Homo sapiens: one gene and its partners. The protein of the gene in region 2 interacts with the protein of the main gene of each other region in a biochemical or structural test. Each region holds a gene or a part of one and is shown on either strand. Other genes may lie near its edges.

Evidence for each region. The genes of interacting proteins can lie anywhere in the genome.
Region 1: the proteins of TLK2 (region 2) and IRF4 form a complex in vitro, tested with the Homo sapiens proteins (one study listed by BioGRID).
Region 3: of the proteins of TLK2 (region 2) and ASF1B, one has a biochemical effect on the other in vitro, tested with the Homo sapiens proteins (3 studies listed by BioGRID).

Annotation. Positions count from the first base shown.
Region 1 is NC_000006.12:387,591-394,751, forward strand, and holds the start of IRF4 (interferon regulatory factor 4), read left to right. Parts: upstream 1-4,161; 5' UTR 4,162-4,219; intron 4,220-5,507; 5' UTR 5,508-5,562; coding exon 5,563-5,778; intron 5,779-7,161. UniProt on the Homo sapiens protein: Transcriptional activator. Binds to the interferon-stimulated response element (ISRE) of the MHC class I promoter. Binds the immunoglobulin lambda light chain enhancer, together with PU.1.
Region 2 is NC_000017.11:62,572,808-62,579,832, forward strand, and holds part of TLK2 (serine/threonine-protein kinase tousled-like 2), read left to right. Parts: intron 1-407; coding exon 408-560; intron 561-1,537; coding exon of another isoform or gene 1,538-1,603; intron 1,604-3,901; coding exon 3,902-3,968; intron 3,969-5,669; coding exon 5,670-5,767; intron 5,768-7,025. UniProt on the Homo sapiens protein: Serine/threonine-protein kinase involved in the process of chromatin assembly and probably also DNA replication, transcription, repair, and chromosome segregation. Phosphorylates the chromatin assembly factors ASF1A and ASF1B.
Region 3 is NC_000019.10:14,119,590-14,126,614, reverse strand, and holds part of ASF1B (histone chaperone ASF1B), read left to right. Parts: intron 1-377; coding exon 378-493; intron 494-4,906; coding exon 4,907-5,083; intron 5,084-5,949; coding exon 5,950-6,156; 3' UTR 6,157-7,025. UniProt on the Homo sapiens protein: Histone chaperone that facilitates histone deposition and histone exchange and removal during nucleosome assembly and disassembly. Cooperates with chromatin assembly factor 1 (CAF-1) to promote replication-dependent chromatin assembly.

The sequences.
Region 1 (7,161 bases), on a different chromosome or scaffold from region 2:
GAAAGGAGACATCACCTCGTATCCTTGGCTTCTCATTACGTCATCGATTACAATCACAAGTCTCATTTCCTACAAGCCTGAAAGCGGGTTCTTCTCTGCATGTAGGAAAAAGCCCCGCTTACTAACTCTGCCCTCAAAGAGATCACAAGCTGGTCCTGAACGCCCTGTGCCCTGGGAATGCTTACTGTCGAAGCTCTGCAAATTTTCTCATTGAAGGCACTCAGGGCATTCTGCTAATTAAATTAGGAAAATGTGTACAGCTCTACTTGAAAAAATCCAGGTTTATGCTCTGTATTCTATTACCAAAGAATTTATCACTTTTCAAATAACATTCAATTATTTTAAACTGAGTGTGCAGTGAGAGCATTTATAATATAATCTCATTTCCAGAGTGTTCCATCCCAACTCCTCTCTGGTATAAGTAGCTTAGAAGGTTAGATTTTTTTTTTCCAGAGGATTAAACATTCGAGAAGAGTGGCTAAGAGGCAGCACCAGGTTTCTCTCATTTCCTCAAAGAGAATTTAGCCTTGTGAAGAAGAATAAAGTGAAGGTCAATGGTTAGATCCATGGCTTAAAAATAAAATGCAGCTTTCCTTACTCTGAATTTACCATAACCAAAAAGGCCACGAGGCAGCCATTAATGATCCTAAGTTGCAACAGAAAGAAAAAAACACCTACTTAGGGTTAAACGAGGATTCAGTGGTCACTTGCCGCCGGCCTCCACTTCACAGGGGCGGAGGATGAGGCCAGGGAAGACTTTCTTACCCACACTGACCTGACCAGAGATGAAACTCCCCCTCCTATGACAGCCTGCACTCAGAGGCTGATTCTGAAATAGTCATGCCAAATGCAGCCAATCCCTGTGTACAAGGAGAAAAAATAGTTCCTCAGAGCTGTGTCCTTGGGCCAGCCATCTGGACCTCTCACAATCTCTTTCGTTCTCCCTACACTTGGGCTGAATCCCGCCTTCCTTGCCTGCCAGGTTTGGTTTGGGGGCCAAATGAGTGAAAGTCCGTGAGATACCCCTAAGTATTGAAGTGCGTAGTAAATGATAATAGCCCTGATTTGTTGAACATGATGATGTGCCAGGCATTGCGCAAAGCATCATTTCATCATCACAACAAACACTGCTGGGAGGCAGGGACACCCCCACCCTCCTTGTACACCCAGAAGTAGGACTTTGGTTAAATGGCTCTCCCAAGGCCTCACAGCCTTAAAAACTCAAGCACTTATTTAATCCCCAATGATACTACCTTTTGGCCATGCAATGTGTCATGGCCAGTAATTAGATTTGCAAACACATATAACCAAAGAGGATTAGAAGAGACATATATTCTATATAAATTACATGAAAATAGCACTTTCAGTATTTTCCTGATTTTTTCTGGTAATTAAAAATGATTGCCCTTTATATTTCTTTATGGATACAGTTGCATTGTTTTTAGCCAATTGTAGCCCCCCCCTTTAAAGAGTGAATTAGTGGGAAAATAGTGTTATCCAAGATTTTAAGAATCTAGTGTGTGTGTTTGTGTGTGTAGGATGGGTTTTTCTGAAATATTTTACTTGCATGTGAATGTATAATTTTAAAGATTGGCTTTTAAAATACTGAATTGAGGTAAATTCAGCTTTTCTTGCAGACTCTTTACGATAAATGTGAAATTGAAAATGGAAATGCTCCATTCAGATGGTGTGCCGACTACAACCTCAACATACGGATAATTCACTAAATAAGTAACTTCCTCGTGGAATATCACGGTCAGCCTTTGTTTTGGGTACACATTCAATGAACTGGTTTCCTATTAGTTTCTGCTTGTCAACAAGTTGTGTCATTTACTGATAAATATCCAGCCTTTTACTAAGGAATACCGATTTTCTCAAGTCTCAGTGTGTGGAGGGGGTGGGAGTTTGGTGGGGAAGCTTTTCAATTTGAGAACCTTTGCCGTTTTTTGTTTCAATCGTGACTAAGATATAAAAGTCCTTGGTCACCACTGCCAGCTGCTACCTGTTCACTGCCTCCCTGACGGGTAATGAGGCCATCCGGAGTTTTAGTGATTAAAATGTTTTATTACTTGTATTCACATCATCATTAAGAAAAATAACTTCTAGTGGATCAATATGGCAAATGAGTAAACCAGAAGATGGCGTTGAAGATTAGCAATTACATTTAAAAACAAGGTAGTGGTGTGAAGGCTCAGAGTTTCACACAACGACTGTTGTTCTGAACTAAAAGCAGAGGATGTGGATGAGTGAGGGGAGGGTATGTTGAAAATGACTAAACCCGGTGCAGAGGACACGTATACGAAAGTGCAAAAAGCTCTCATTTGCCATTTTTTGTCCTCAGCAAACTCCTCTCTGGTATGTTTGTGAACGTTTGAGGGAAAGGTAACACTGATTAAAATATAATGCAACAAGAAGGCAACGATCTTTGCTTTGTTCACTGATGTGTTCCAAGTGCCTAGGACGGTTCCTGACAAGTAGCAGGTGCTCAAAATACATTTGTCAAGTGAATAAATCTGTGAAAGGAAAGGAAGAAAAACAGGTTGTGACCAGAACTTTTTGTGAACAAAACCCTGTTGTTTATTACATAGACTTTGGTAATGGAAAACTTACTTGGGTGAAATAAAAAATGGCATCCTGTTAATTTCTGAGAACGTCTGTTGGTTTTAGGAAAAGCATACCTATCCATACCTCACTACCTGTTTTGCTCTAGCCTAAACATAGATTCTTCTTTGGTTAGGAGACATTGACCCAATATATAAGATTAAAACAAAAACTGAGAAATAAGTGAAATCAAAAGCTTTTCAAAAGTTGCAGGTTGACCTACGGTGGTGGTGGTCTAAAATCATATAGAAACCAGAGATCTGATGGTTTACCTGAAAATGCGAAGTAAATGCACATACTCAGCATCTCAGACGATCGAAAGCTCAACGGGTGAAAGCTCAGGGGGTTAATTTTGCGATTAAGGACATCTTGGAAAAGTATGTAAAATCCCTGGTCCACTTAAGTATTATTCCTATTTTGGGCTTTTATTTATTTATTTTGAGATGGAGTCTTGCTCTGTCGCCCACCTCGGCTCACTGCAACTTCAGCCTCCCGGGTTCAAGCGATTCTCGTGGCTCGTCCTCTCAAGTAGCTGGGGCCACGCCCGGCTAATTTTTGTATTTTTAGTAGAGATGGGGTTTCACCGTGTTGGCCAGGCTGGTCTCGAACTCCTGACCTCAGGCGATCCACCGCCTCGGCCTCCCAAAGTGCTGGGATTACAGGCTTGAGCCACAGCGCCTGGCCTATTTTGGGCTTTTATACCCCACTGGTAAACTGCTTTCCTCCAGGTTGAGGTTAAAACGACATCATTTTAAGGTGAACTGAAGTCTGGAAGTGATTAAGCACTTGGATCCTTAGGGAGCCTCTCCCCGCCCCCATCTCTTTCATGCTAAGATAATTAAAACTTCGGGGCCGGGGCATTGTCTGAGTCACTTCAATTCACCAGCCTAATAGATGCAAAAGGATGTAAGCATGTCAGACACGCAGAGACAGTATTTGAATCAAGCTTAATAGCTCAAGGGAGCTGGGCCATTTCCTATTTTCTTTTTAGTGAGTGCGATGTTCTCTAAACACCGCGGAGAGGCAGGGTTCCCGGTGATGGCCTTGCCGAGGGTGCTCCCGCAACCTCCACCTCCAGTTCTCTTTGGACCATTCCTCCGTCTTCCGTTACACGCTCTGCAAAGCGAAGTCCCCTTCGCACCAGATTCCCGCTACTACACGCCCCCCATTTCCCGCCCTGGCCACATCGCTGCAGTTTAGTGATTGACTGGCCTCCTGAGGTCCTGGCGCAAAGGCGAGATTCGCATTTCGCACCTCGCCCTTCGCGGGAAACGGCCCCAGTGACAGTCCCCGAAGCGGCGCGCGCCCGGCTGGAGGTGCGCTCTCCGGGCGCGGCGCGCGGAGGGTCGCCAAGGGCGCGGGAACCCCACCCCGGCCGCGGCAGCCCCCAGCCTTCACGCCGGCCCTGAGGCTCGCCCGCCCGGCCGGCCCCGGCTCTCGGCTTGCAAAGTCCCTCTCCCCAGTCCAACCCCCGGCCCCCACAGGCCTCGGCGCCCCGCCCCGCCCCAGGCCCCGCCCCAGAGAGTTCTATAAAGTTCCTCTTTCCCACCTCGCACTCTCAGTTTCACCGCTCGATCTTGGGACCCACCGCTGCCCTCAGCTCCGAGTCCAGGGCGAGGTAAGGGCTGGAGTCGGGCAGGAGGAGGGGTGTGAGGCTGATACCAGAGAGGACCCGGAGCGCGAACCAGAGGTTCGACCTCCAGGGCAGCGCAGGGTACCCCGGCTTCGGAGCGGGAAGGGAGCGCGCCCCGTCCTGGAGCTCCGACTCCCACCCCATCTGCGCTGAGCCGGAGGCGCTGGTTTGGGCTCCAAGGCCCGCCTCCTTGGCTCTGCCCGAGCCTCCCCGCCTGCCCTCCGCGCTCCTGCGACGGGGTCGCCACAAGCTGGACGGGATGAGCTAACCGGACTGTCGGGGCCCCAGGAGTGGCTGAGGCGGGGCCGTCCAAGGCACCCACACAAGACGGCACAACTGCCTGCGAGAAACAGGCCCGGCCCTGTGGACCCCAATCCGAGGCTCCTTCCCCTGCTCTTCGTTCCTAAGGGGCCCAAGCTCACGGCGGCCTCCGGCGCGGTGCTCACCCGCTGGCGCAGGAGGAGGAGGAGCTCCACATTTGGGTCGCTCCGAGCCTTGCGTGCGGTGGCCTAGCCGGCCTGGCGCGGTCCCTGCCTCCCAGGCTCCGCAGCTGTCGTCGCCCTCTCCCGCGCCCTCCCCGCCTCCGCTCTCCCGGGCCTGCTCCGGGGTCCGGCGGACGCTCTGCGCGCGGAATCCCCCGTACTGGGGCTGCAGCCCCCGCGTCTGCGCCACTTGTCGTTTGCAGAGCCCACTTAGTGCGCGCTAGCTGGGCAGGGATAGGGGTCCTATTCGGGGCGAAGGGTCTGGATGCGAGCAGAGAAAGCGGAGGGTGGAGGAACCCGGGGCTGCGCCCCTGGAACGCCCGGCCGCAGGCGAGGTCCTCCGCGCGTGGAGGCCGCCAGGGGAGTGGAAACTGACAGAGTCGCGGGGAAGGGGCGAGAAGCGGGTTGGGAGTGAGCGAAGGCAAGCGAGAGCTGCGAGTGAGTGCGGAAGGAGGGCCAGGAGGGGTGGCGGCTGGGTGGGGAGAGAGGGTGCAAGACGAGCGGCGCGTGTCGGGAGCCTTTGGGCTGCGGGTGCGTTACAGGAGAGCAGGCGGGTAGGAGCCTTCGCGGGGGCCGAGCTCGGAAGGCGGACGGCTGTGCCCGCCCAGGGGATGCGCCCGGGCCGGCCGCGAAGGTGCCTTCTTCCGGGGGCCCGGACGACCCTGACACGGCACGCGCGCGCTTCGCAGCCTCAAAGACTCCGGGGCCTCGTGGTCACTGGCGCAGGGGATCGGGGCGGGGTGCCCGGAGTGCGGTGCCTCGTGGCTGAAGGGCAGCTCTTCTCCCCGCAGTGCAGAGCAGAGCGGGCGGAGGACCCCGGGCGCGGGCGCGGACGGCACGCGGGGCATGAACCTGGAGGGCGGCGGCCGAGGCGGAGAGTTCGGCATGAGCGCGGTGAGCTGCGGCAACGGGAAGCTCCGCCAGTGGCTGATCGACCAGATCGACAGCGGCAAGTACCCCGGGCTGGTGTGGGAGAACGAGGAGAAGAGCATCTTCCGCATCCCCTGGAAGCACGCGGGCAAGCAGGACTACAACCGCGAGGAGGACGCCGCGCTCTTCAAGGTCTCCGGCCTCGGGAGCCGGCGGGGGCGCGCCGGGGAGGGCCCAGAGACAGAGCCCGGGGTCCCCGGCGCCGCCTCCGAGGCGAGCCCAGGGGACCGCGCGGGGCGGACGGGCGGGCGGCGGAGGCATCAGGTGGCGTCGCCGGAGCCGCAGGAGGAGGAAAGGAGGCCTCGGCTCTCAGCGGGACCGCGGGGGCCGGGAGCCGGGTCCTGGGCGCGTGGAGGCTGCAGGGAAACCGCTGAAGGCCCGGCCGGGCCCGGGGAAGGGCGGCCAAAGGCTTGAGGGGTTTTGCGCGTTCGTCCGTGCGTTCTCGTTTCCACGCAAGCCTCCCGCCCTTCCTCCGGGCTCCCGTCTGCCGCCTCCGTCCGTGGGTCCCCCTCGCCCTCTCCGTGCGTCCGCGCCTGTGCCGGCGGCTGTTTTCGTCTCTCACCGCGTCTCTGTTTCTCTTTTCGCTGCTTTTCTCTCTGAGTCTCTCTCTCTCCATGTTTTTCCTGAGGTCAGCCTCTCTTCTCGCTCCTGCTAGCTCTCTGCGGGTACTCCCACCTCTGTCTTTCTCTTTGTGTGTCTCTGTCTCTCTCTTTCCCCCATCGCAGTGGAACTCAGGGCCTCTGTCTAGAGCTGTCTCCCTTGCCCTTTGCGCGAGTGCACACACGTGTGTCGTTGTTACGATTGTTCTCCCCTAAGGCAGTTTACCCAGAGAACTACGTGTCTGGGCCCAGCCCCCACCTGTGGGCAGAGCAGGGGAAGGGGACTTCCTCCGGGAATTTGGTCTCAATTTGCTCTCAGAGTGCCTCAGCTGTGCTGCCATCCAGATGTCTCCTGTGGGTGACAGCTCACACCACAGCTGTCCTTAGTCCTAGGCAAGCTCACTCAGACACTGGGTGGGTAGAGCCCCCTCAAGGAACCTCCGCATCTCACTCTACCGGTTATAAATACCCAGAAAATGTGTCTTCAACTTGGCAGTGATAGGGTCCAAGATGGAAAATCATTTTCCTAGAGCATAGCTGGGGTCTTTCAGTTTACGTTCTGAGCAACGGTGTAAATCTGAAGGACCTATGCGCCATTCTTTCTTTTAGAAATACAATTTCAAGATTCCTTATAAAATATCTGTATTTTGGGTTTAGCATGGTGGCTCACACCTGTAATCCCAGCACTTTGGGAAGATGAGGTGGAAGGATGCCTATGCAACATAGTGAGACCCTGCCTCTGCAAAAAATAATAATTAAAAAAATTAGCCAGGCATGGTGGTGAACACCTGTAGGCCGAGGGCCCAGCTACTCTAGAGGCTGAGATAGGAGGACCCTAGAACTCAGGAGTTCGATGCTGCGGTGAGCTATCATCGTGCCACTGTACTCTAGCCTGGGCAGCAGAGCAGGACTCTGA
Region 2 (7,025 bases):
TCCAAAGAAAAATAAAATAGAACTTGGAACTTTTTACAACTTTTAAAATACGATTTACTTTTAATGGGTTCAGATCAGAGAATTGTTTCCTTAGCTGTTAAAAAGGAATCAGAAAATTGTTCCTTCTGAGTCAGAAAATAAGGTCACAATAGAAATTTGATATGTTCCTTCCTGTCCACTCTGAAAATAGTAATAACTAGTGTCTTAAAGCACAGACTCATTCCCAGAAAACATCTATCACCAATTATTTGGCCCTTCCAATCTGAAGTTAAAATCAAATCTCTACTTGACTTAAAGGGGCTTATTTTTTCTGAAATTGGATACACAAGTGACAAATTGTGTGTGTTCCATAGCTGTGGTAAAACTTTTGACTTTCTTTCTTTGTACAACGTCTTTTATATCTCTAGGCAACAGGAAAGGATAAATTCACAGAGGGAAGAGATAGAAAGACAACGGAAAATGTTAGCAAAGCGGAAACCTCCTGCCATGGGTCAGGCCCCTCCTGCAACCAATGAGCAGAAACAGCGGAAAAGCAAGACCAATGGAGCTGAAAATGAAACGTATGTTCTTTATTGACGTGAACGCTGAGACACCACACCCTGCCCCCAAATACAAATGTTGATTGTCACCGGCAATAGTTTTAAATTCTTGAGGTCACTCAGGTTTAAACCTTCTTTTCAGTTACATTAATGGATTTGCTCAACTCATATAAATGCCATATAAAATTAATTGATTTTCTTAAACCTGCTCTTTCTTTAGGGCATTTTGAATGAGAGGGAAAAGTAATGTCACTTGACATCATGACTTTTGGCCACTCCTGGTTAACAAATAAGATGTCATTGTACTGAAATGATATTATTGCTTACATGTGGCTGCAGGGTGTGGTACACTAGTATCATCTTATGGGAGTTACCTGGCTGTTATTTCAGACTGAAGAATGCTCTTTACTGGTCAAAAGAGCACTTAGTTAATAGTCACAAACTTAGGATAAGCCCCCCAGAAAGCTGTTATGTTAGAAAAGGACATTGTCCCAATAAGCCACAACTTGATCTCATCAGAATTGTTTCCTGTTCTGGGAATCTAAGGAAAACACCAGTATCTTAAACTGCAGTACAGTCATCTTTTTCTCTGTCACTCAACAATATTTACATAGCTACCATATATAGGAGGAGTAGAAAATTCTAAGCACAAATGCCTGCCTTCTCCATTCTTCTCTTCCTTTCTGTTTAACTGAAAGTAAGTTTCAAGTCCAAAGATAGCTGCAGATAAAAGATATATAACTTATCAACTAATATGTCATTTGCTTTATGTTTTCATATTAGTTCACAAAAACAACACATAATCCACTTCAGGTATAATAATACTTGTATTATATTATTGTTAAAAGTCTGTGGCATCCTAGAAGTGCATCTTCTTTCATTCTAGTGAGAAAGATGGCTTAACACCAATCCTCACCCCATACATATCTGATGTTTTGGGAAGTCTCTTCCTTGATGTTCGTTTAGTAAGTTTATGTTAAATGCTTATTTTATGCTAGGCCCTCTTCTGGGAATACAGAGCTAAAGGATACAGCCCCAGCCTTAGGAGCCCACAGTTTACTTAGGTGAGATGAACAGACGAATAAACTAATAATTACATTAAGTATAGCGATAAAAATGTGCATAATGAACTTGGAAAACATCTTCATTCATATAACTCCAAATTTTGTTGTTGTTGTTTTTTTTTTTTGAGACGAAGTCTCACTCCGTCGCCCAGGCCAGAGTGCAGTGGTGCTATCTCGGCTCACTGAAACCTGTCTTCTGGGTTCAAGCGTTTCTCCTGCCTCAGCCTCCTGAGTAGCTGGGACTACAGGCGTGCACCACCATGCCCAGCTAGTTTTTGTATTTTTAGTAGAGATGGAGTTTCTCCATGTTGGCCAGGCTGGTCTTGAACTCCTGACCTCAAATGATCCACCCTCCTCGGCCTCCCAAAGTGCTGGGATTACAGGTGCGAGCTACTGCACCCAGCCCAAATGTTACAAAACTAGAGTCTTGTTTTCCCTTGATTTTAAAGACTAGTCAAGTGCAATAATGAGAATGAGAAGAGGGGAAGAGTATTGAGTCTTAAATATAAAGTATTTTCCTTTCAGCAAGTCCAAGTAGGGGCTCAAATTTGAAAGATTGTCCAGGCTAATTAATCTGACCAATGTTTTCTTTCATGACTCCTGTGTGTATTTTGTGAAGGGACTTTCCCTCTAGTATTATTTGAAAATTATTTAATGCTAATGCACAAAACCATTGGCTTAGGAGTGATAAAGAAAGCATAGGTTGTTTCTTTGCCACAGAAGAATAATTAGAATGCAATCTAGGCTAGTAATGTGTAAGCAATTGCTATCTGGTGTCCTGTGTAAAATCCAATCTGGAAGACTTTCAGTCCAGTTTTTAATTAGAGTATCTGTGACTTGGCTCTTACTTTGACCAGAAGCCAGAAGTAGGCCTCTGGGGTCTTGGAGTGAGCCATATTATCCTTTCTTGGCCCCGAACCTGTTTCAGACAGAGAATTCTTAGCCATCATTTTTAATTTTTCTGTTTTTCGCTGGTGTGGAATGGAGTAATAGATACAGGTATTTCTGCATCTGTAAAGAGATAGCCCTAGTGGGTGAGTTTCTTCTTCTTTCTATTTTTTCTTGAGTTAGACCTCAAAGGCTCTGTTCTGGTTGATAGGATAGATATTTCCCCTTTCTTCTGCTATTTAGAATATATCTAAACAGTGATATCTAAAAATATTAAATATCTATATGCTTCTAGAATGCGAAGAAGGTAGAGATGGAAGAAAAAATAATTCTCACTTGTTCATCTTTTTTTCTTTTATTTTCTTTCTTTCTGTCTTTCTCTCTCTCTCTCTTTCTTTTCTTTTCTTTTCTTTCTTGAGACAGAGCCTTGCTCTGTTGCTTGGGCTGGAGTGCAGTGACATGATTATAGCTCACTATAGCCTCAACCTTCTGGGCTCAAGCAATCCTTCCATCTCAGCCTCCTGAGTAGCTGGGACTACAGGCATGTGCCACCATGCCCAGCTTCTTTCTTCTTTTTTTCACAGAGACAGAGTGTTGCTTTGTTGCCCAGGCTGGTCTCAAACTCCTGGCTCCAAGTCCTTCCCGCTCAGCTTCCCAGAGTACTGGGATTACAGTGAGCCACCAAGCCTGGCCACTTGTTCATTCTTGAGATGTAAGGATGCTGTTGGAGTAGTTGGAACATGAAACACATGACTACCCATCAAGTCAGCCCTTTGAGAGTTGATTTAAATAGCATTTTCAATATTCTTTATATGTTGTCATTTAATAGTCACTCTTTCTTAGATAGGTATTATCACTTGCTGCATTTCAGGAAACTGAGTTAAAGAGGTTAAATTTGCTTGCGCAAGGTCACATGGCCAGTAGCTTAGTAGTGCTTTGAACCCTAGTCCTCAGACTCCAAATCCTAGACTCTAATTTGCTGCTATATCTTTCTCTTTGTTATTACAGTATCAAGGTTTAAGTATTAACAAGAATAATCAAATCCATTGGCTTATTGTTTTGCCCTCTAAAAAATTTTTAGAGAATTTTTGGCTGTCTCTGAATGAGTTTTTATCTTAGTAATATATGGCACAAAACTCATTTCAAAAATAATATAAAAATATGGCTCACTTTTTTTTCTTTTTTATGTTTTGCAAATTAGACTTCTGGCTTTGAAGTTCTTCCCTCACATCACATCTGGTAAATCACAGAAGTTTTCTCTTGTCAGAGGACTACAAGATAACCCATCTTTCAGTCATTTTAACTGAGACTGAAACTGAATATGTCTTATAGTATATTTGAGCATTTCTCTTTAAACAGGCAAACTATGATTTCTAGTAGTTTACTGAAACTTTTACCACTGTTTTTCAGGTTAACGTTAGCAGAATACCATGAACAAGAAGAAATCTTCAAACTCAGATTAGGTCATCTTAAAAAGGTAAGTATAATGAGAAAATCTCCCTGGAGAAATGTGATACCTAGTTTAAATTTGGGGTTGAAGCTATTTGGTCATTTGGGTGAATGTAATAGTAGCTGCACATAGCAGCAGAAAGCTTCAGTGACTGCTTTCACTGTCATGTCTTGTAGCCTAATGGTAGAACTCATATTTTTCCATTTTCTTTCTTCTTCTTTTTTTTTTTTTTGAGTTGGAGTCTCACTGTGTCTCCCAGGCTGGAGTGCAGTGGCACGATCTTGGCTCACTGCAACCTCCACCTCCCGGGCTCAAGCGATTCTCGTGTCTCAGCCTCCTGACTAGCTGGGATTACAGGCACGTGCCACCATACCCAGCTAATTTTTGTATTTTTAGTAGAGACGGGGGTCTCACCATTAGGCTGGTCTCGAACTCCTGACCTCAAGTAATCCTCCTGCCTCGGCCTCCCAAAGTGCTGGGATTACGGGTTACAGGTGTGAGCCACCATGCCTGGCCTATCTTTGCATTTTCAAGTCAATTCCAGCAACCCAATGACAGTGTTTTTCCCCCTAGTGATCTATCAGCAGATAATTCTGTACACATCATAAGGCTTCCCAAGTGGTTATCCTTGGAGTAAAATTTAAATATATAACAAGAGCAGATGGTTTTGAAATTGATGTGAAGACTCCTGTCATATTTCAAATCACATAGCAGCTCTTATTCCTTGCCTAAACTAGCTAAAAAGAGAAAGTGTTATGTGAACCTTATTCAAATACAAAGGCACATAACATAGAATTTGTTATTGATGATGTTCACTGAGATATCTTAGATGTGGATTACTCAGCTCTTAAAATTCAGAAGCCCATACATTGGTCGATGCTCTTTATAGGTGATAATGGTCAGTAAAGATTTACTAAACTGCTTTTGGTATGTGTGCTTTTGTTTTTTATTTCACATATTAGTTTTCATGCTGTTTTCCCACTGGGTTCTCAGAGCTTGTTAAATAAGTAGAACTTGCTGGGGATGGTGGCTCACACCTGTAATGCCAGCACTTTGGGAGGCTGTGGTGGGTGGATCACCTGAGGTCAGGAGTTCAAGACCAGCCTGCCCAGCATGGTGAAACCCCGACTCTACTAAAAATACAAAAAATTAGCTGGGCGTGGTGGCATGTACCTGTAATCCCAGCTACTCGGGAGGCTGAGGCAGGAGAATCACTTGGACCTGGGAGGCGGAGGTTGCAGTGAACCGAGATCGTGCCATTGCACTCCAGCCTGGGTGACAACAGCGAAACTCCATCTTAAAAAATAAAAATAAGTAGAACTTAAGTCACCAAGTGTAATCCATACTTAAAGATGAGAACCGAACCAGATAGATAACCTGATTTTTGTAAAAAATGTTTCCATGTCTAAATGTATATGCACAAAACATTCCTGAAAACTTATGTAAGAAACTTAATAGTGGTTATTACATCTCAGGAGTGGGCATGGAGAGGAGGGAGGAGGAGGGTAGGGAACTTTTACTTTTCTTACTGAACTCCTCTGTATGGTTTGAATTTTATTATTTTCTATGGGCTCATTTTTATGATTAAAATTCTTAAAGAAATCTTTCAATGCAAAGCACCTTCCTTTAGCCTTTCATAAGATAAATGTCTGCTATTGTTTTTGAAATAAGATCCCGAAAAGGTAAAGTTCCCCCTATTTTGTGCTATTTCTTTCCTTTTCGCTTTAGGAGGAAGCAGAGATCCAGGCAGAGCTGGAGAGACTAGAAAGGGTTAGAAATCTACATATCAGGGAACTAAAAAGGATACATAATGAAGATAATTCACAGTAAGCTACTTCAGGGCATATTGGGTTGGAGATTGCTAAGCATTTTATGATATGAATTGAATGGTCTAGAATAATGTGTTTGCTTAATGTAAGTTACATAAATGATTCCATGGTGTATTTAGCTCTTTTGTAGCATCTAATACAATTTTGTGAACAAAATTATGATTTGCCTTGGTTTAAATATACAATTGTATTAAATTTATATATTAAGTATATATGTGTATACATATAGCATTTTTACATGAATAAAGATTACTAAAACAATATGGCTTTGTAATTGTAAATGGTTGAGATATGTTGCATATTCAGATTTTCCTACAGAGCCTTAAGAAAGGGAAGATGGGTCACAGTGTGGTGTTGTGGAAAGAGTATTGGGTTGAGATGACACTCGGTTTCTGAATGACCTTTAAGGGCTATTCAGGTGTTGAGATTTTAAGTAAGACTCTTAAGTTCAGTACATTAATTGTAGATGAATTGAAACTGGGAAAAGTAGGTTGAAAGTAGAAAGGGGTTTTTATAAGTAATCTGTTTTTTCCCCATATTTTTTGGACCCTGAAACATTTTTTCATAAAGCCATAGCTTGTATATTTTTGTTTGGCTTATATGAGCTTTGGACCTGTCTTTCTGTTAAAGTGGCAGACAACAGCAGGTACCACTTCCTGAGAGCTCTCTGTGTATCAGGCTTGGTCCTAAGTGCCCTTAGTGCTCTCATTTAATCCGCAGGATAACCCAGTCATCTTTAATACATTAATCAGAAAACAAGCTTAGAGAAATTAAATTAACTTGCCCAGGGACCCATAAATAATGTGACCAAAGAGTTCAACTTGGATCTTTTTCATCTAAACCACCATGCAGTAATGTCTCTCCAGATAGGCATCCTACTTTCTTAAAATCCATGTAAAGTAATTTCAGAATTAATAGTGAGATTGTTTAAGATCAGGAACTAGGTAAAAATATTTTTAAATTTGTTTTTGCCAGAACTTGTCATTTCTTTATCATATTATTAAGAAAATACCCAAGGTAGAGTCTAATATGGGGAACACAGTTATATCTGTCTTAAAGAGAGAATAATGAATGCACATAGAACATGTGACTCACTTTAAAATCAAATCTGTTTTTAAGGAAATAGCAAGTGTCTTGGAATTTTACTGTATGTAGTTTTGAAATGGTGGGAACATGTGGCCCTTGAATAGTTTGGAGGAGCCAAATAGCACAATCTAAAAATCTCTAATCTACCCTCCCTCATTGTATAGCAGGG
Region 3 (7,025 bases), on a different chromosome or scaffold from region 2:
CTGTAATTCCAGCTACTCAGTAGGCTGAGACAGGAGAATCGCTTGAACCTGGGAGGCAGAGATTGCAGTGAGCCAAGATCACACCATTGTACTCCAACCTGGGTGACAAGAGTGAAACTCCATCTCAAAAAAGAAAAAAAAAATTAGCTAGGCGTGGCAGCGGGCACCTATAATCCCAGCCACTCGGGAGGCTGAGGTATGAGAATCACTGGAACCTGGGAGGCGGAAGTTGCAGTGAGCTGAGATCGCATCACTGTATTCTAACCTGTGTGACAGAACGAGACTCCATCTCAAAAAAAAAAAAAAATACAAGAGCCTATCCCTGCCTTCTTGCTGTTGAGCTATTTCAATTAGTTAACCCTCCTATATCTTTGCAGACCTGGAGTGGAAGATCATTTATGTTGGCTCGGCTGAGAGTGAGGAATTTGATCAGATCCTAGACTCGGTGCTGGTGGGCCCTGTGCCAGCAGGGAGACACATGTTTGTCTTTCAGGTAAGAAAGATGAGGCCTTAGGCCTTAGCCCTTGATTCCTAGAAACATCCTCTTTTACCTGAAATCCCACAGAGTGCTTCAGGAATCAAAAGTTCAAGTTCAGCTGGGCACGGGCTCACGCCTATAGACCCAGCTACTCCAGGGACTGAGGTGAGAGGATTGCTTGAGCCCGGGAGTCTGAGGCTGCAGTGAGCCACTGCACTCCAGCCTAGGCAACACAGTGAGACCCTGTCTCTAAAAAAGAAAAAAACAAGTATTAAAAACATAGAGGCCGGGCACAGTTGCTCACACCTGTAATCCCAGCACTTTGGGAGGCCGAGGTGGGAGGATTGCTTGAGGCCAGGAGTTTGAGACCAGCTGGGGCAATATAGTGAGACCGCATCTCTACAAAAAATGTAAAAATCAGCAGAGCATGGTGGTGTGCGCCTGTAGTCTCAGATACTTGGGAGGCTGAAATGGGAGGATCACTTGAGCCTGGGAGATGGAAGCTACAATGAGCCAAGACCACACCACTGCACTCCAGCCTGGGCAACAGTAAGACCCAGTCTCAATCAATCAATTAAAACAATTTAAAAGTTCAGGTTCAAATCCTAGTTCTACTGTCAGGAACTATCTGACCTCTCAGAGGCCGTCAGGCCCTCCCTTCCCCCACCTCTGTGTCAAAGCTGCCACTGATTTACAGGCAATTCCCATTATTTACAAGAGTTACGTTCTATAAAGTTGCCGCGAACACTGAATTAGTGAATACTGAACCATTGCCCCAGGGGAAATACAGGGTTAGATTCTTGGAAGTCACATTTTCGTCAGCTGGTTAATACGTAAACTTGTATGTGTGTTTATGTTGAAAAGACACCAGGACGGCTATGATGGCTCAAACCTGTAATCCCAGCACTTTGGGAGGCTGAGGTGGGTGGATCGCCTGAGGTCAGGAGTTCAAGACCAGCCTGGCCAATGTGATGAAACCCCGTCTCTACTAAAAATACAAAAATCAGCCAGGTGTGGTGGCGCATGCCTGTAATCCCAGCTACTCGGGAGGCTGCGGCGGGAGAATCGCTTGAACCTGGGAGATGGAGATTGCAGTGAGCTGAGATCGCACCAGTGCACTCTAGCCTGGGTGATACAGCGATACTCTGTCTCAGAAAAAAAGGAAAGATACCTTATTTAATATATACAGTGGTTCATTTATGTTGAATTCACAGCCAACAGCACTATAACTCTCCTGAATGAAACTTCTCTAATACGCATATTTTCCATAAAGCCTTTCTTGTATCCTACACTGCACTTCAGCACTACCGTTGGGTGCCATCATAGACAGCAAACTCACCAACAAAAAGCACAAAACATGGAAAAAAGCACTAAGTAGGCTGAGGAAAGGACGCTCATTCACAGTGAGAGCTGAGACCAGAAGACAGAGTGTTGCCTTGTTTGACCTCAGGTGGGAACAGGCGTGGTAGGTAACTCTAGGTGGGAACAGGCATGGTAGGTAACTCCAGTTTTTCCCTGCTCTGTGCATGTCTGCAAGTGACTGTGAAAGCAAGCAGGTGTTCATCTTGGGGTTACAAATAAACTTAGCAGGTAGGTGAACTTGCACATATGGAACCCATGAATAATGAGGATGGACTGTAACTCCTAAATGGCTCTCATGCAGCACCCCACCTGGGTTGTCAAATGTAGATTCTGGCCGGGTGTGGTGGCTTCCAGCACTTTGGGAGGCAGAGGCGGGAGGACTGCTTAAGGCCAGGAGTTCCAGACTAGCCTGGGCCACATAGCGAGACCCCCATCTCTACAAAAAATAGAAAAATTAGCCGGGTGTGGTGGCTTGCACCTGTCGTCCCAGCTACTTGGGAGGCTGAAGCAGGAGGCTTGCTTGAGCCTGAGAGTTTGAGGCTACAGCGAGCTATGATTGCACCTCTGCACTGCATTCTGGGTGACAGCGAGACCTGTCTCTACAAAAAAAACATTAACCAGGCATAGTGATGCAGGCCTGTAGTGCCAGCTACTAGGGAGGCTGAAGCAGAAGACTCACTTGAGGCCAGGTGCCATGGCTCACACCTGTAATCTCAACACTTTGGGAGGCTGGGGCAGGCAGATCACTTGGGGTCAGGAGTTAAAGACTAGCCTGGCCAACATGGTGAAACCCTGTCTCTACTAAAAAATACAAAAATTAGCTGGATGTGGTGGTGCACATTTGTTATCCTAGCTACTCGGGAGGCTGAGGCACGAGAATTATTTGAATCCAGGGGGCGGAAGTTACAGTGAGCTGAGATTGCGCCACTGCACTCGAGCCTGGGCAACAGAGTGAGACCCTGTCTCTAAAAAAAAAAAAAAAAAAAAATAGGCTCGCTTGAGCCCAGGAGTTCCAGGAGTTTACAGTGATCTGTGATTGCACCACTGCACTCCAGTCTGGATGACAGAGGGAAAAGCTATCTCTTTAAAAAAAGAAGGCCGGTGCAGTGGCTCACGCCTGTAATCCCAGCACTTTGGAAGGCCAAGGTGGGCGGATCACAAGGTCAGGAGATTGAGACCATCTTGGCTAACATGGTGAAGCCCCATCTCTACTAAAAAATACAAGAAATTAGCCAGGCCTGGTGGCGGGCACCTGTAGTCTCAGCTACTCAGGAGGCTGAGGCAGGAGAATGGCGTGAACCTGGGAGGCGGAGCTTGCAGTGAGCCGAGATCACGCCACTGCACTCCAGCCTGGGTGACAGTGAGACTCCATCTCAAAAAAAAAAAAAAAAAAAAAGAAGAAAGAAAAAACAAATGGAGATTCTGAGTTCTCCAGGTGATTTTTCAGGATCCTCTGCTCGGATACACTCCCTTACCTCCATCACTGCTGTTACCGCCCTAATCCAAGCTACCACATCCTATCTAACCCCTTCAGCCACCACTACTAAATCCACTGACAGGCCCTATCTACTCAACAGTCAGGACTGGCCTCCTGGGTGTGCAACCCAGGCAGCTGCACAGGACCCCACACTTGGTGCGATACTCTGCTGTCACCGTCTGAAACCTAATAGCTTTTCTGGAGGGGCGTGGTGTTTTCATTTTGCATTGGTTTTATTTTGCACCAATTACGTGGCTGGTCTTGTTTGCAGTAGTACACCCTGAATCTGTTCTTTACTGCCTGGTCTAAGCCAAGTCCACTGCCTCTCCAGGATGACTGGTGTAAGCCTTCTGCTCCACTACAGTCTCCTGTCACGGCTCCACACTTTGCCAGAGGCTTCTTTTCAGATCACAAGAGTGATGTGGCACTTAACCTCCTGCTTACTCTCTTGCCCTTTCCCAATCCCTTAGCTGGCCCCCGGGTGGCCTGATACCACCTGCCTCACCTGTTCAGCTTCATGCCACTGTCCCCCGGCTCACCACACTCCTCCAGAGTACCACGCACCTCTCCCTGCCACAGTCAACGTTTTGTAGTCATTTGTGGGATTGATTCTGTGTTTCCATCAGTTGACAACTCCTGGCTGGGCACAGTGACTCACACCTGTAATCCCAGCCCTTTGGGAGGCTGAGGTGAGAGGATCGCTTGAGCCCAGGAGTTTGAGACCAGCCTGGGCAACATGGAGAAACCCTGTCTCTACAAAAAATAATTGGCTAGACATGTTGGCACACACCGTTGTCCCAGCTATTTGGGAGGCTGAAGCAGGAGGATTGCTTGAGCCCAGGAGTTCAAGGATGCAGTGAGCCATGATGGCGCCATTGCACTCCAGCCTGGGTAACAGAGGGAGGCCAGACCCTGTGTAAAAAAAAAAAAAGTCCAGGCGCAATGGCTCACACCTGTAATCCCAACACTTTGGGAGGCCGAGGTGGGCAGATCACCTGAAGTCAGGAGTTTAAGACCAGCCTGGCCAACATGGTGAAATCCCGTCTGTACTAAAAATACAAAAAAAAGGCTGGGCGCAGTGGCTCACACCTGTAATCCCAACACTTTAGGAGTCCAAGACGGGTGGATCACCTGAGGTCAGGAGTTCGAGACCAGCCTGGCCAACATGGCGAAACCCCATCTCTACTAAAAATACAAAAATTAGCCGGGCATGGTGGTGGGCACCTGTAATCCCAGCTACTCGGGAGGCTGAGGCAGGAGAATCGCTTGAACCCGTGAGGCGGAGGTTGCAGTGAGCCGAGATCGCACCATTGCACTTCAGCCTGGGCAACAGAGCAAAACTCCATTAAAAAAAAATACCAAAAAAAAAAAAAAGTTAGCCGGGTGTGGTGGTGTGTGCCTGTAGTCCCAGCTGCCTGGGATGCTGAGGCAGAATTGTTTGAACCCGAGAGGCAGAAGTAAAAAAAAGAAAACTGAGGGCAGAGAGCATACTTTTTGCTCAGTAAATACATGATGCTTGGGAATCTTTGTACTAATGACATCGAGGCATGGCTGTGGCACTGCTAAGGCCTAGGATGTGTCTCCCCTAGGCCGACGCCCCCAACCCATCCCTCATCCCAGAGACTGATGCCGTGGGTGTGACTGTGGTCCTCATCACCTGCACCTACCATGGACAGGAGTTCATCCGAGTGGGCTACTACGTCAACAACGAGTACCTCAACCCTGAGCTGCGTGAGAACCCGCCCATGAAGCCAGATTTCTCCCAGGTGGGGCCTGTTTCCACTTCCTGCTTCCCACAAGGCCGTTCTTTATACTTGGGGGGAGTTCAGCCATTCAAATTGAGAGTCAAGGTCACTTCTTAAGGTTTTCAAGTAATATTCAGTTCTTACAGTACTGTGTTAGAAGAGGAGAAAAAGACCTTTGTCTCTCAAAGGCATGTCTTAGAGAATTAAGATTAGGCCAGCCTGGGCAACATAGTGAGACCCTGTCCCTAACCCCCGCAAAAAAAAAAAAAAAAAAAAATGAGCCAGACATGGGTGGTGTGCTCTACTCTGGAGGCTGAGGTGGGAGGATCGCTTGAGCCCAGGAGTTTGAGGCTGCAGTGAGCTCAGATCGTGCCACTGCATTCCAGCCTGACCAACAGAGTGAGACTGTCCCTTAAAAAAAAAAAGTCCTGGGCCAGGCACAGTGGCTCACGCGTTGTAATCCCAGCACTTTGGGAGGCCGAGGCTGTAGGATCACCTGAGGTCAGGAGTTTGAGACCAGCCTGGCCAACATGGTGAAAGCCCGTCTCTACTAAAAATACGAAAATGAGCCAGGTATGGTGCCTTGCACCTGTAGTCCCAGCTACACAGGAGGCTGAGGCAAGAGAATCGCTTGAACCCGGAAGGCAGAGGTTGCAGTGAGACGAGATCACAGCATTGCACTCCAGCCTGGGCAACAAAAGCAAAACTCCGTCTCAAAAAATAAATAAATAAATAAATAAATAAGGTCCTGGCCACAGGTGTTTTCTGGAGTTCCATATGTAGGTTGCTCTTGCTGGGCTTGAGATGGGTGATTGGGGGTGTCCTGGCTCTATGGGACCAAGGAGAGGGCGTACCTACAAGGGTTGACGTTCCTCTTCCTGCCCCAGCTCCAGCGGAACATCTTGGCCTCGAACCCCCGGGTGACCCGCTTCCATATCAACTGGGACAACAACATGGACAGGCTGGAGGCCATAGAGACCCAGGACCCCTCCCTGGGCTGCGGCCTCCCACTCAACTGCACTCCTATCAAGGGCTTGGGGCTCCCTGGCTGCATCCCTGGCCTCCTCCCTGAGAACTCCATGGACTGCATCTAACTGCAGGAACCCAGAGTGTCCCAGCACGCCGGGAGGGGCAACCAGGCCTCCCAGCGAGTCCTGCAGGGCCCATCTAGAGGACTTTGGGGGCCATCAGCTGCAATCCAGGTCTGTCAAACTCAGCCCCTAGGAAAGAACAGGCCTTGGGTCTCCCCTAGTCCTGGCCAGAAGGATGATCTCGCTTTTCCTCTACAGGCCTATAAGAAGCAGGTACTTCAGTTCTAAATTCTGACTTGTGTTCTTTTCGTCTTCATAAATTCTAACTAAGGCCACTGTGCCACTGTGCACCCTTGAGTACCATTGATCCAAAGCTTTCCCACAGACCTCCCTGGCCCACCTAGAGGCTTTCTTGGTCAGTGCCTGTCAAGGCTCCAGTCCTGCTGAGCCAAAGGCTTTGTCATTCCTTTCTCTTCCTGTACATCTGAGCAGACCCACTCCAGCTTTCTGGTGTCACAGGCGGGAATGTTAGTTAGTAGGTAGACTTAGATCCCATTTCTGTCCTGCTCCCAGGAAGATTCTTAGGTCCTCTTCAATCCAGCAGCCCCTCCCAGAGGTGTGATCAGCAGGATGCTGAGGAACCATGTTGCCTTTCCTGTCAATCACAGCCACCTTCCTGTTATCTCCTAAATGGATCTGGCTTTTCCTGGAGGCTGCCATGGTTGGAAGATGGTATCAGAGGGCCTGCCTGGGCAGTCTGTCTCCGGGCCAGGGTCAGGGACCCTCTGCCTCTGGCAGCCTTAACCTGTCCTCTGCTAGGACCAGGGTGATTTCAAGCCAGGGAAGCAACTGGGACCCTGAAAACTGTCCCTCCCCAGCCCGCTCCCCCTCTCTGTGCCCTGGTCCCCTTGCTGCCATGTGGATGCTGTTGT